Linked DNA regions of Homo sapiens: region 1 is linked to region 2. Evidence: fine-mapped expression QTL. A gene starts in region 2. The other region holds a variant in brackets. All regions are shown on one strand. Distances are between the middles of the regions.

Region 1 (5,382 bases), 46 kb before region 2:
TGTAAAAAGTTCTTCCCAAGGCTTCAGAACAGGACTGTGTATCATAATGAGATTCTTACCCCTCTAAAGGCCTACCTTTTTATATAGCAGAATAATGTTGTATGTAATGAAATTTCACAAGCAGTATCTTCTTCTGGTAACTTAACAGAACTTAACCTAAAAAAAAAAATCCCTTAGAATCCCTTAGTTAAGTAAGAAAAATATCTGTACAATTGCTAATACTGCTTGGTGGACCTGGAAAAATCCCTCTGGGAAAGTTGAGACTCATATACGCAAAATTTAAAAAACAGGCCACACAGTTACAACCTAACTCCCTAAGGTCATTTGATTTATTAAACTGACTGCCTTTAAGCTTGGGTTTATGGCTGAAAACTATTATACAAACTGGGATTGTCATATTAATATTAATTTTATTTTGTATTTTCCCTTTTAAAACTTCGTATCTATTACTTGTTAAATTTTTTGCAGAAGTACTACTAACAGAATAATATTGGCCCAGCACTTTGACATGATAACAAAAGACTGTGGAACAGACAAAATTGAACTCAATAATGGACTCCAAGTAGATTTTGCTTTAGAGACATTTCCTTCAAAACTCCCTAGCTGCTGAAATGTGGCTAAAAAAAGTTTTGAATACTGATTCCTAGTTGCTAATCATTCCCCCTAATGTGGGATGAAACCAGCAAGCAGGAAAGAGTCATCCAGGCACCAAGGATCATTAAAACCTAACTGCAGGATGATTGATCAGTGATGCTTTTGGAAAAAAAAACCTTGATCAAAAGGGGCAAATGTGAAAGCTGTCAGAATAAAAAGAAGTCACTAATATTGAAAGCAATAAAGAACCCTAACAAAGAGAGCCAGGGAAGTCTATGAAGGAGGGGTTCTCATGCTTGTGTGCCCGATAACAAAGCTATCACAAAAGACTCCACAAAAAACCATAACCTTGAACTAAGGTCATTGCAATCTTATACTAAAAAAACAAAATCCTTCTGCAAGGACATCTCTCCAGCAACTGCCTGTCCAACTTTGAATTGGCATCACCCTTGTTATTGATCTTTGTAGCCAAGGATAATTATCTCAAAACAGTTATGTGATCCTCCTCATTTTTTGTTTAAAAACTTTTGTCTTCCTTTACCTCCCAGAAAAAGCACATAGTTTAATATGGCATGGGTATTCCCATTGCAATGTTCTACTCCTGAATAAATATAGTTTTCTTTTAGAGAGGCTCTCTTTGTTATTTAGGTTGACATCACCAAGTTGGCAAGGGAGCAACAGCATAAGCCTTTGTGCTCAGGGTACAGCATGGCACAGACCTGAAGGGAACTTTTTGCAAGGAACAAAAATAATATGGCAGGATCTGCATTTAATAAAACCAAAGTCACAATGAACATGAGGTGGCTCAGCAGATACCAATACGTTCAGGTGCCAACCTAAGCAGGTACCTCCCTCCCTCGTTGTCCGCCTTGAGTCTGCATCATTCGAGTCTTCCTGGAATTTAAAAAGCAATCTTAGATAAATGTCAAGTGGGGACCCTTAAGCTTACATAGATTAAACATCTCCATTTGGAGAAGAGAGGCAAGTTTCGTCTAACGATAAAAACAATAAGGATGAATTTAGATGAATACCAAATTCATCTAAAATATCAAATTCACCCTTCAGATGAATATCAAATTTAAGAAAAGAATAAGGCTTGTTGAAATGGCAAATGTGTGGATAGTTGGCCCAGGACTCAGAAAGCAATAAATAACTGATCAATGGACCACATCCCTCAAGATGAAATGTAATGGGGACAATGTGGACATAATGTAAATATTTTAGTAGATGGCATGGGCTTAGCTGCAGAGTGTGTAAATAGCTAAAGTTTCAATGACCATTAAATGCATTAATAAAATTAAAATAATGAAGAAAGGGGGACAGTTCTAATTAAAGGCACTAGTCAAGATATTCTTGGAGTAGTGTGTGTGTGTGTGTGTGTGTGTATGTGTGCACGTGTGTGTGTCCTGGAAACGAGAATTGAGGGGACTGAAAAGAAAAGAACTGACTTATATGGCTGACTTCACATGATAACAGCTATTACATGAAAGAGTAATTAAATTTTTCTGTGGTCCTTGTGGGTAGAATTAAGGCCATTTGCAAAATATATACAAGGAGAGATTTTTTTTTAACCTAGAAAGAAAGAACTTTTTACACATAAAACTGTCTGAAGATAGAGTAAGTAGTAAGTTCCCTGTCACTGGAAAGGAGATTCTGGTTTTGCAGTGAGGATCTGGAGGGAGAATTCAAATATCAAATGGGTGATAGAGGGTCAAATAAATTTTTAATCCTTCCCAAGTCTACGATTTCATGGTATTATAACAGTTAGACTTTTGAACTATGCAGAAAATTGGAAAGGAGTTGAAAAACCGAGAGAATGATTGTTAGAAATCATTATAAGTTGCAGTGGCTGCTTCTGGAACACAAATAATGGAAAAGGTATAAAAGCTAAATGTTTTCATTTTTTTATAATCCAAAATGCATTATGAATATTTCTTGTGCCACTGCATTTAGTAAATAATGTAAAAATCTTGACATGTATATTTTGCATAAAATGAATAACCTGAGATGCAGAAACACCATGTCGATTTATGCAATCCAGTGGGCATTTTTGAGACAGTAAAGCCTCACTGAGAGGCCCCCAGGTACTGTCTGCCTCTGGACAATGTAATGAGGACATGGAAAATCTATGGCTTTCTGTTGCCTTCACATTTCCATCAACTGGGATGATTTCAGGAACATGTAACAGAAAATCCAACTAAACAAGGTTATGGTATAATACTACATTGTGTGGTAAGAAGCCCAGAATAAGGCAGTTATAGGAGTGATGAATTCAATGGCTCGGTGTTGTCAGGTATTCAGGTTGAGTTCTCTGTGGTTCTTGTGGACTTTCCCTTCATAGCAGCAACCTGGCTGAACAACATAAACCACCATGTAAGCCGCTCGTCACACATGATAATGTCTAAGGGGAAAAAAGAGTGTTTAACAAAACATCACTGATAAAGGAGATGAGATGACCCTGAGTAACTTAGGTTAATTTACATTTTACCTTCTGTGTGGGGCCAGAAGTAGGCAAATGG[G/T]TTTTCAATGTCTGAACGAAAGCAGGATTTTTTAGCAGGGAAGAGATGCAATGGAACAGGTATGGATTTTATCTAGGTAACTAACAGTGTCTGCCACAGCTTCTTGTGCCAGGGTCCAATGCCTGTTTTGAAACAAAAATACTATAGTAATGTGTCACGTAACAAAGAACCTCAACCAAGCTAAAAGCAACAGAAATTCATGTCTTGCAGTTCAGGAAGGAAGGTATTGGCTAGGCGATGCTTCCTCTAAAATCTGTAGGAAACTCCTTCATTCCCTCTTCCTAGGCTCTGATGTTTGCCAGCAATCCTTGGCATTCCTCAGCTTGTAGATACATTGTTCCAATCTCTGCCTCCGTCGTCACATGGCTGTCTTCCTCCTGTGTGTCTGTGTCTTCTCTTCTTATAAGGACGCCAGTCATATTGAATTAGGACCTGCCCAAATGACCTCATTATAACTTGATGACACTACTAAGACCCTATTTCCAAACAGGGTCATATTCACTGCAGTGCCAGAGGTTAAAATTTACATGTATTTTTTGGGGAGAGGGCACAATTTAACCCATAATACTTACACAGTGACACTCTTCAAGGGATCCCAACCTTGCCTGTATGGAGTCTTCCTCTATAAACAAGGTCCAAGGTTTCTTCTTCTACACAGTATGGGTATGGAGACACCAGGGTATATTGATAAGAGCACCAAACAGTATGGTATGCTGGAAAGAGCATCAAAACAAGGTTTGAAGACTTGAACACTATTTGGATCGTCTTAGGAAAGGCAATTATTTTCTCTTAACCTGTTAGTTTCCTCGCTGTTACTCATCTAAGAACTTCCCAGGCAAAAGGTACTCTGACCTCAAGGCATTGCTTGCCTCATGCCAGAGCTGTGTGGCTCTTTATGGAGATGAACATATCTTGCCATTGCCTGATACCATTAAACATTCATTTATTTTACTCATTTCTAGTGCAATATTTCCAAAGCACTCTTATTACAAAGTCTTCCCACATGATGTGCTTATAGATGTGAATTTCCTTTCTCCAAAATTTTTATATTTCTCAATATAATTTGAACCATTGTCCTTTAAATGTTGTGAAAAAAATAAAGATTTCAGGTTTTTTTTCTTTCTAAATTCTTGGTTGTAAAATGTCATGTTATTTTCCTTTAGTACGTCAGGTTTACAAGGCAATGCGACCTTCCTGTTTTTATTCATATACAATGTCTTTATATTAGAAATTTGTAATCTCAAATGCTTAGGGTGTAATAAGGAATACATAACAATTGAGATTTTTTTAAAAAAATTACAAAATAATAGGAAAGTTTATGGGTGAATGAACTTATTACCAGTGGCATTTTTAATGAAAAACACTCTGACCTGCATTTCCAGGAGCAGAATGGTTCAGAAGAAAAGTGAATTTCTCAAATTCCACTGGCTTCTTTAACAAAGGTTCATGAGTTTGGGTGTGTGAATAAGCAAGCCCAATGCAGGTCTAGCTGAGTTGGCATGAGGTTAGGGAAAGGGGCTGTATTGACAGACAAATGAGATCACTCATTCTAATCCATTCCAGGATAGCCAGAAGGTTTCAAAGAGGCTCAATAATGAGAGTTGCCTCTTATTCTGGGTCAGGAGACACACTCGTGCCTTCGTGACTATTTTAATTAATGTTGTTGTCTGCCTGGTATGCTTTCTTCTTTTTATTCTAATGGAATATGCCTTCCTATCCACATGGTGGGTCTGTCACATAGGCTGGAACTGTCATATCATCCCATGACCCTGGTGTTCTGGATTTTTTGTTGCAATATCATCCCCTTTAGCAGGAAATAGGCTGATAAAGCTGAGCAGTGTCTGAGGAGGCATAGCACACATGCAACTACTTCAGATATGGCTAAGGAGGATAAGAGGTAAAGAACAAGCTCTCAGAGGGCTGGGCTAAGAGCCACAGAAAACAGTGGATGAGGACATCAACCCAGGGAGAAGACAGTGTTTATTCAAGGTATCTTCATTTCTGCTGTAACAGATATATTCCTAAAATGTACTGCATTAGACAAATCATGCAGTAAGAAAGACAGGGTATATGGGAGAAATGGGGCTAGGGGCCCAACACTCAAAAACTGTCAGTGACATATATTTAAAAAGTAGGAGCCTGTTCAGAGCTTGCAGTAAGCCAAGATCGCACCACTGCACTCCAGCCCGGGCGAAGGAGTGAGACTCCATCTAAACAAAACAAAAAAAGAAAAAAAAAAAAGTAGTGGGCTGATAAAAATGGCAGCACA
Region 2 (5,382 bases):
CTGCTAATACGCTTCTGAAAGGCAATTTTAAAGAAGATAAAATGTGTTTTGTGCAATCAATGTCAGTGAAATCAGTTGAATTTTCCAAAGCAATTGCTCTAAAAGACAACACTCATCTGTTTTGCTGGATATTTGATTTGTTTTTGTGGTCGTTGTTTAAATCCATTTCTACTCTTTTAAAGTTATAACTTATTGGTATATGGTTCATTCTTCACCAATGCAGATATATTGAGAAGAATGGAACCTGTCACATATAACACATATTTGGGCAAAGAGTACTTTCTTAAGGAAAAAACAAACAAAACAAAACAAAACAAAAACAACTACTAAAAGACTTTAAGTGGAACTGTGTAGAACATGTTAAATATTTCCATTTCTGTTTACCTTTGTTTCTAGGTATTTGAAAAGCCCAGGCTGCTTTGTTTTATAAACAATTCCTATACTCCTGTGGGCATAATTCTATATTAACTGAAGATTAATTTCAGGTTACACTGTAAAAATGCCTTACAAATGCAATACTATTAGGGTGTGGAAAACCCTGAAGGAACTGAAAATCCAATCCATTTGAGGGAAGCCTTTAATTAACATCTTGGAGAATATGTATTACCTTTTTAAACAGATAAATATTTTTTTTCATTTTAGAGTAGCGGAATCTAATCTTAATCTAATCTTTTAGGAGTATATTTCAGAGAAATTCCAAGCACACCAGTATGACCATCCTTATTTCAGAAATGACAATGCATAGAGGAAAAGTAATGTGTGCAAAGCCTCCGAAGAGGATGGTTAAGTAAAGACTTAGGTTACCAGTATCAGGCTTTCGTTTTTGTATGTAGGTAGCTCTACTGCCTCCTCTTAAAACCAACAAAGGAAAGAGAGACTGGCTGCAAACTTTTAGAAGGAATGGCTTCGAATAGGGTTCCTGGGAGGAATCCCGAGGAAATAGACGCTGCTGCTCTGCTGATTGTCTCCACTATCCTGTTTTGCTCCTACCCACTAATCCAGCCTGGGAGGCTCTGGGCATTAGCGGAAGGCTTCACCACAAGGAGACAGGAGCGAGTATTCCATAGGCATGCGCTCCTAGTGGCACGAGTGGCTTGGGTCAGGATCAAAGAGTGAAGGATTCGGAAGTCAGCTATCTGGAGAGAGAGAGAGAGAGATTGTGTTTTATTCGTGTCCCATAGCTTTCCTATCCTATCCCTATCCTAGCTTTTAACCTGAGCCAGAGCTCACTACACAGGTTCCTGGCTATCGAGTCTGAATCTGCACTACTCAACTTATAAACTGTCTGCAGACACCTGTTAGGGAAATTGCTGATCATGGGCAGCAGGATCTGAACTCGCTTTACCTTCTCGTTTGGAGCACAGGGACCGCCCAGCTAGAGGAGCACCAGCGCACTGCGCCCCAGCCCTGGGCGAGGGTGCGGAGGATTTGTTCTCGGTGCAATCCTGCTGGCGCTTTTCCGGGGTTCTGCGCGGATCCAGCTCCCCATCTCTGCTCCTACACACACAAAAGAAAACAACTCTCGATTGGAAGTTGTGGAATTTTCTCAGCCCCTACGAGGCGCGGGGATTCTCCAGCCCCGGCCCTCCTCCCGCCAGCCTGAGGTCTCCTTCGCTCGCCTGCCTTGCTAGGGACCGCAGTCCCTCAGCCGCAGCTGGGTCTGTCCGCCCCGCCTTTGCCCTCGCCTTTTCCCGGGGCGGATTTGGTGAAGTCGGCCTCAAGTCCAGGAGGTCTGTCTTCGCCGGGCCAGCTCTCGCGGAACTGGGGGGTAGAGAGCAAAGGGAGAGATTCGTGGAAGGGAAGGGAGGTAGGGGTGGCGCAAACGCCCAGAGTATCAAACTTGGGGGTGGCACAGTAGGTGACAGCAGCAGCTGCAGGTGGTGGCTGGGGACCCGCGAGGGGGCGCCCCTCTGGGTAGGGTCTGGCTGAGCGGGCTTGCAAGCCCGGGAGGCGGCTGAGAGACCCTGGACACTGTTCCTGCTCCCTCGCCACCAAAACTTCTCCTCCAGTCCCCTCCCCTGCAGGACCATCGCCCGCAGCCTCTGCACCTGTTTTCTTGTGTTTAAGGGTGGGGTTTGCCCCCCTCCCCACGCTCCCATCTCTGATCCTCCCACCTTCACCCGCCCACCCCGCGAGTGAGTGCGGTGCCCAGGCGCGCTTGGCCTGAGAGGTCGGCAGCAGACCCGGCAGCGCCAACCGCCCAGCCGCTCTGACTGCTCCGGCTGCCCGCCCGCGCGGCGCGGGCTGTCCTGGACCCTAGGAGGGGACGGAACCGGACTTGCCTTTGGGCACCTTCCAGGGCCCTCTCCAGGTCGGCTGGCTAATCATCGGACAGACGGACTGCACACATCTTGTTTCCGCGTCTCCGCAAAAACGCGAGGTCCAGGTCAGTAAGTGTAATTCCTAACTCTGATCACCTCCTGGGAACAAGAAAATCCCTAGAGGAGCGCTCGGTTCCTATGAAGAGGGACATGAGGAGGTCCTCATGAGTGTATGGACTTTTTCCTCCTCCTTTAGGCGGGAGGTGGCGATTTGGAGGATGTAATACCATCCCCATTTTCTACTTTCTCTAGATTTTCCCTTTTCTGTTGAAGATTATTTACTATTTCCTTGACCCTTCTTTGAGATAGGTCATTATCTTTCCAGAACAGTAAGTTGTTATTGTTCCTGCCTCTTTAAAAATCAAACACTTGTCTAAAGCAGAAGGTCCTATTGGATTCTCCAAAGCCGTTCAAGAGGAGACACATTCATTTAAGCGTTTGCTCATTTTCCATCAGAAAGGCTCACCCACTGGCAGGAGCTTTTGGTGGCAGGGAAAGAGGCAAAATTAAAAGCTTTGAGACTTTTTGCAATAGGTACACATCATTTAAAATTCAGTGACATGAAATGGAGATGCTGTTTCCAAAGAAAGGCTTCCCACACCCTTTGGTGAATATTTTCAACTTTCTACTGATTAGCCAAACAATCATGTCTTGTATGTAGCATTCTTGAAACTTCCCTTCTTCCCCCTCCCCTGCCCCCATTCCTAGAACTAATTAGTGTAGGCAAATGCAGGGCTTTTGATTTCTGAGACTGATTTCTGAGATATTTTTCCCTGGGAAAAATGTTCTGGAAGACATTGTGCTTGATAAGATGTGTAGGTTTACTAAGGCCAACCTGTGACAATATTGTTGCAAAAAGCCCCCACAGATTTAAACATCTCTCCTCAAAGCATGAACTGGTCTCTGACTCAAATAACTTGAGGTTATTTGAATCTCGGGTGGTGGGCTGCTGGGGGAAGTCCTGAAACTCTTTTCCTATTCTGCAAAGAAATGTTTCTATGACAAAGTTTCTAAGGATTCCCTTATTCAGGAAAATTGTACCAGTAAAAGTTCTCTTTAAATGTCTTAAAGTAATGTAAATATCTCATTTTGCCTTATTTCAAAGAAAGGTTATTCCCTTGTCTGCTTGCTGTTTCCTTTGTGTGCTTTTGATGGCAACTTCCTCTGTGTACCATTTTCCTTTCCCACTTTTCCAGAAGTGCTGTCATGAAATGATGCATTTTCTGCTCTGGGTAATGTTTTGACCTGGCTGAAGGGAGTAACCTGCTTAAGCACAGCTAACACTGTCTATATTCTAAGAGCTTGTAGATCAACAACCATTCCTACAGAGAAGTTGTAAATAAAAGGGCTTCAAAATTTATAAAACAAGACTGAGAAGAAAAAGCAAAGCAAATCAAAAAATCAAGTATACTCTTCCTCCTAGTAACCTTCAATCTCATGCTTCCTCTCAATTTAGTCAGGTATAACCTCCAAACTCCAGCCTCTTGGAGTCTCTTTAATTCTGTAAATGGCTAAATGGCTTGTCAGGATTGAGTAACTGTACTCTAAAACCAGTCTCTTTCTTAGTCTAGGGGATATGGTGTGGGCTATCAAACATACACTCCAAGATATGAATGATTTGTTTCAGATTTCTCTAATTACTAAGGAGTGGAGGCACATGTGAAAAGAGGCTGGGGCTCCTTGGAATGTTCTATGTGAAATTTATGCAGAGGGAGCAGGAATATATCAGTACGGCAAACACCTGAGTACATGGAAACTCTCATGTCTCTCTGTATAGTAAGGCTCCTGTGGAAGGGTGAGTGGTGAGAGACAGAGAGTGAGGGAAAGATGCGGAAAGAGAAAAAAAAGTGAGATAAATGGAGCGGGAGAAAGAGAGTTGGGGGAGCAGAAACCTTTGAAACAGAAAGTTTTCTTTATGGGTTATACTGACAATTTAAAATGTTATAATCAGGAATTAATTTAACAGGGTCTCAGGACAATTTTTTTTTTGTATAAGCAGTTATCTGATTAAGAATAAGAAAATAAGCATATGGATGTTATGTCATAGGGAAGAACCCTACATAGGCAGTTGTCTTCAGTAAAGGAAAGGATCAAAATTATACTTTCCATTTGGCTGACATTGATTATTCAGTATAATTGTGCTTTCCTTTAGCTTTATATTTGTTCTGACAAATTGCTGAGTACCTTTAATATGCTATATAGTGTGCTAGGGATTAAACAATGGAGGAAGAAGGTCTAGGTTCTGTCTTCAAAGAGATTGCTGTGGTGGGTAAACGAAGGAAAACAGTCACAACGTGGCATGTGGTACATGCGGCATTAGAAGTGAGCACAGGGGCTTGGGGTAACTGAGAGGCTTCCCAGTTTAAAACGGGGAGGGCAGAGAGGCATGAAAAAGGCTCAGGTGTTACTGGAATTGGAAGTAAGGCAGTATGACAGAAGTGGACAGTATATATTGGGCTGTCAGCAGAGATGAGGCCAGAGGGATATGCAGGGATGAGTTCAAGAAAAGCCTCGAATGTCAGGCTAAGGAGTTGGGATTTTCTTCTATAGGCCAGTGTTGTCAACCTGTGGGTGCAGATCCTTTGGTGGGAGAGCAAATTAATGAAAGCATACATGTATGTTATTATCAGATCATGCAAAACAGAATCTATTCAAGAATGTAAAAAAGGAGTAATTTAATTCAGATAGTTGATTAAACAAGTGATGGAAGCCAAACAATGGATGTTGAGACTACCTAGGGATTACCAAGAGCAGGAAGTCATTACTGCCTCCAGCTGGATGGATATGAGGAAGAGGTAGTGTGACCAAGGCCCCCGGAACAGGGACACCCTCTGGAATCAGAATCACAATAGGTCTGTCCTATGAAAACCAGAGCTACAGAACTGCTGTAGAGGCACTGCCAAGAGCAGAGAGGGAGGAAGAAGAATATAGTGGCTTCTCCCTTCCTGCTGCCTGCCAGTGCCTCCCACCGACCAAACCCAGCCAGAATCCCAAGGACTTGGAGCTTGAAAATGTATTCTGTGAGAGTCAGCCCTCCTGTGGTACAGAGCAGAACAGAACA

Alleles and levels. Alleles are on the strand shown, and positions count from the first base shown. SD is a standard deviation of normalised expression in the study named.
For the expression in prefrontal cortex of the gene that starts at base 1,957 in region 2, T is the high allele of the variant in region 1 and G is the other (large effect, 1.5 SD a copy in ROSMAP).

Evidence for each region. PIP is the estimated chance that this variant, and not a neighbour inherited with it, causes the effect.
Region 1: its variant is the best candidate, but not a certain one, in a credible set for the expression of NPY2R in prefrontal cortex (ROSMAP, PIP 0.53).

What each region holds. Positions count from the first base shown.
Region 1 is chr4:155,160,295-155,165,676 of GRCh38, forward strand. No RefSeq gene overlaps it. Among named protein-coding and RNA genes, the nearest start is that of NPY2R-AS1, 45 kb to the right of the region's middle. The variant G/T (reference allele first, on the strand shown) is at 3,114.
Region 2 is chr4:155,206,680-155,212,061 of GRCh38, forward strand. NPY2R (neuropeptide Y receptor Y2) reads left to right here and starts at 1,957. Exons shown (of 2, transcript NM_000910.4): 1 at 1,957-2,390. It overlaps NPY2R-AS1 (NPY2R antisense RNA 1), which reads right to left and starts at 1,493. Exons shown (of 2, transcript XR_001741894.2): 1 at 1,346-1,493; 2 at 1-1,136.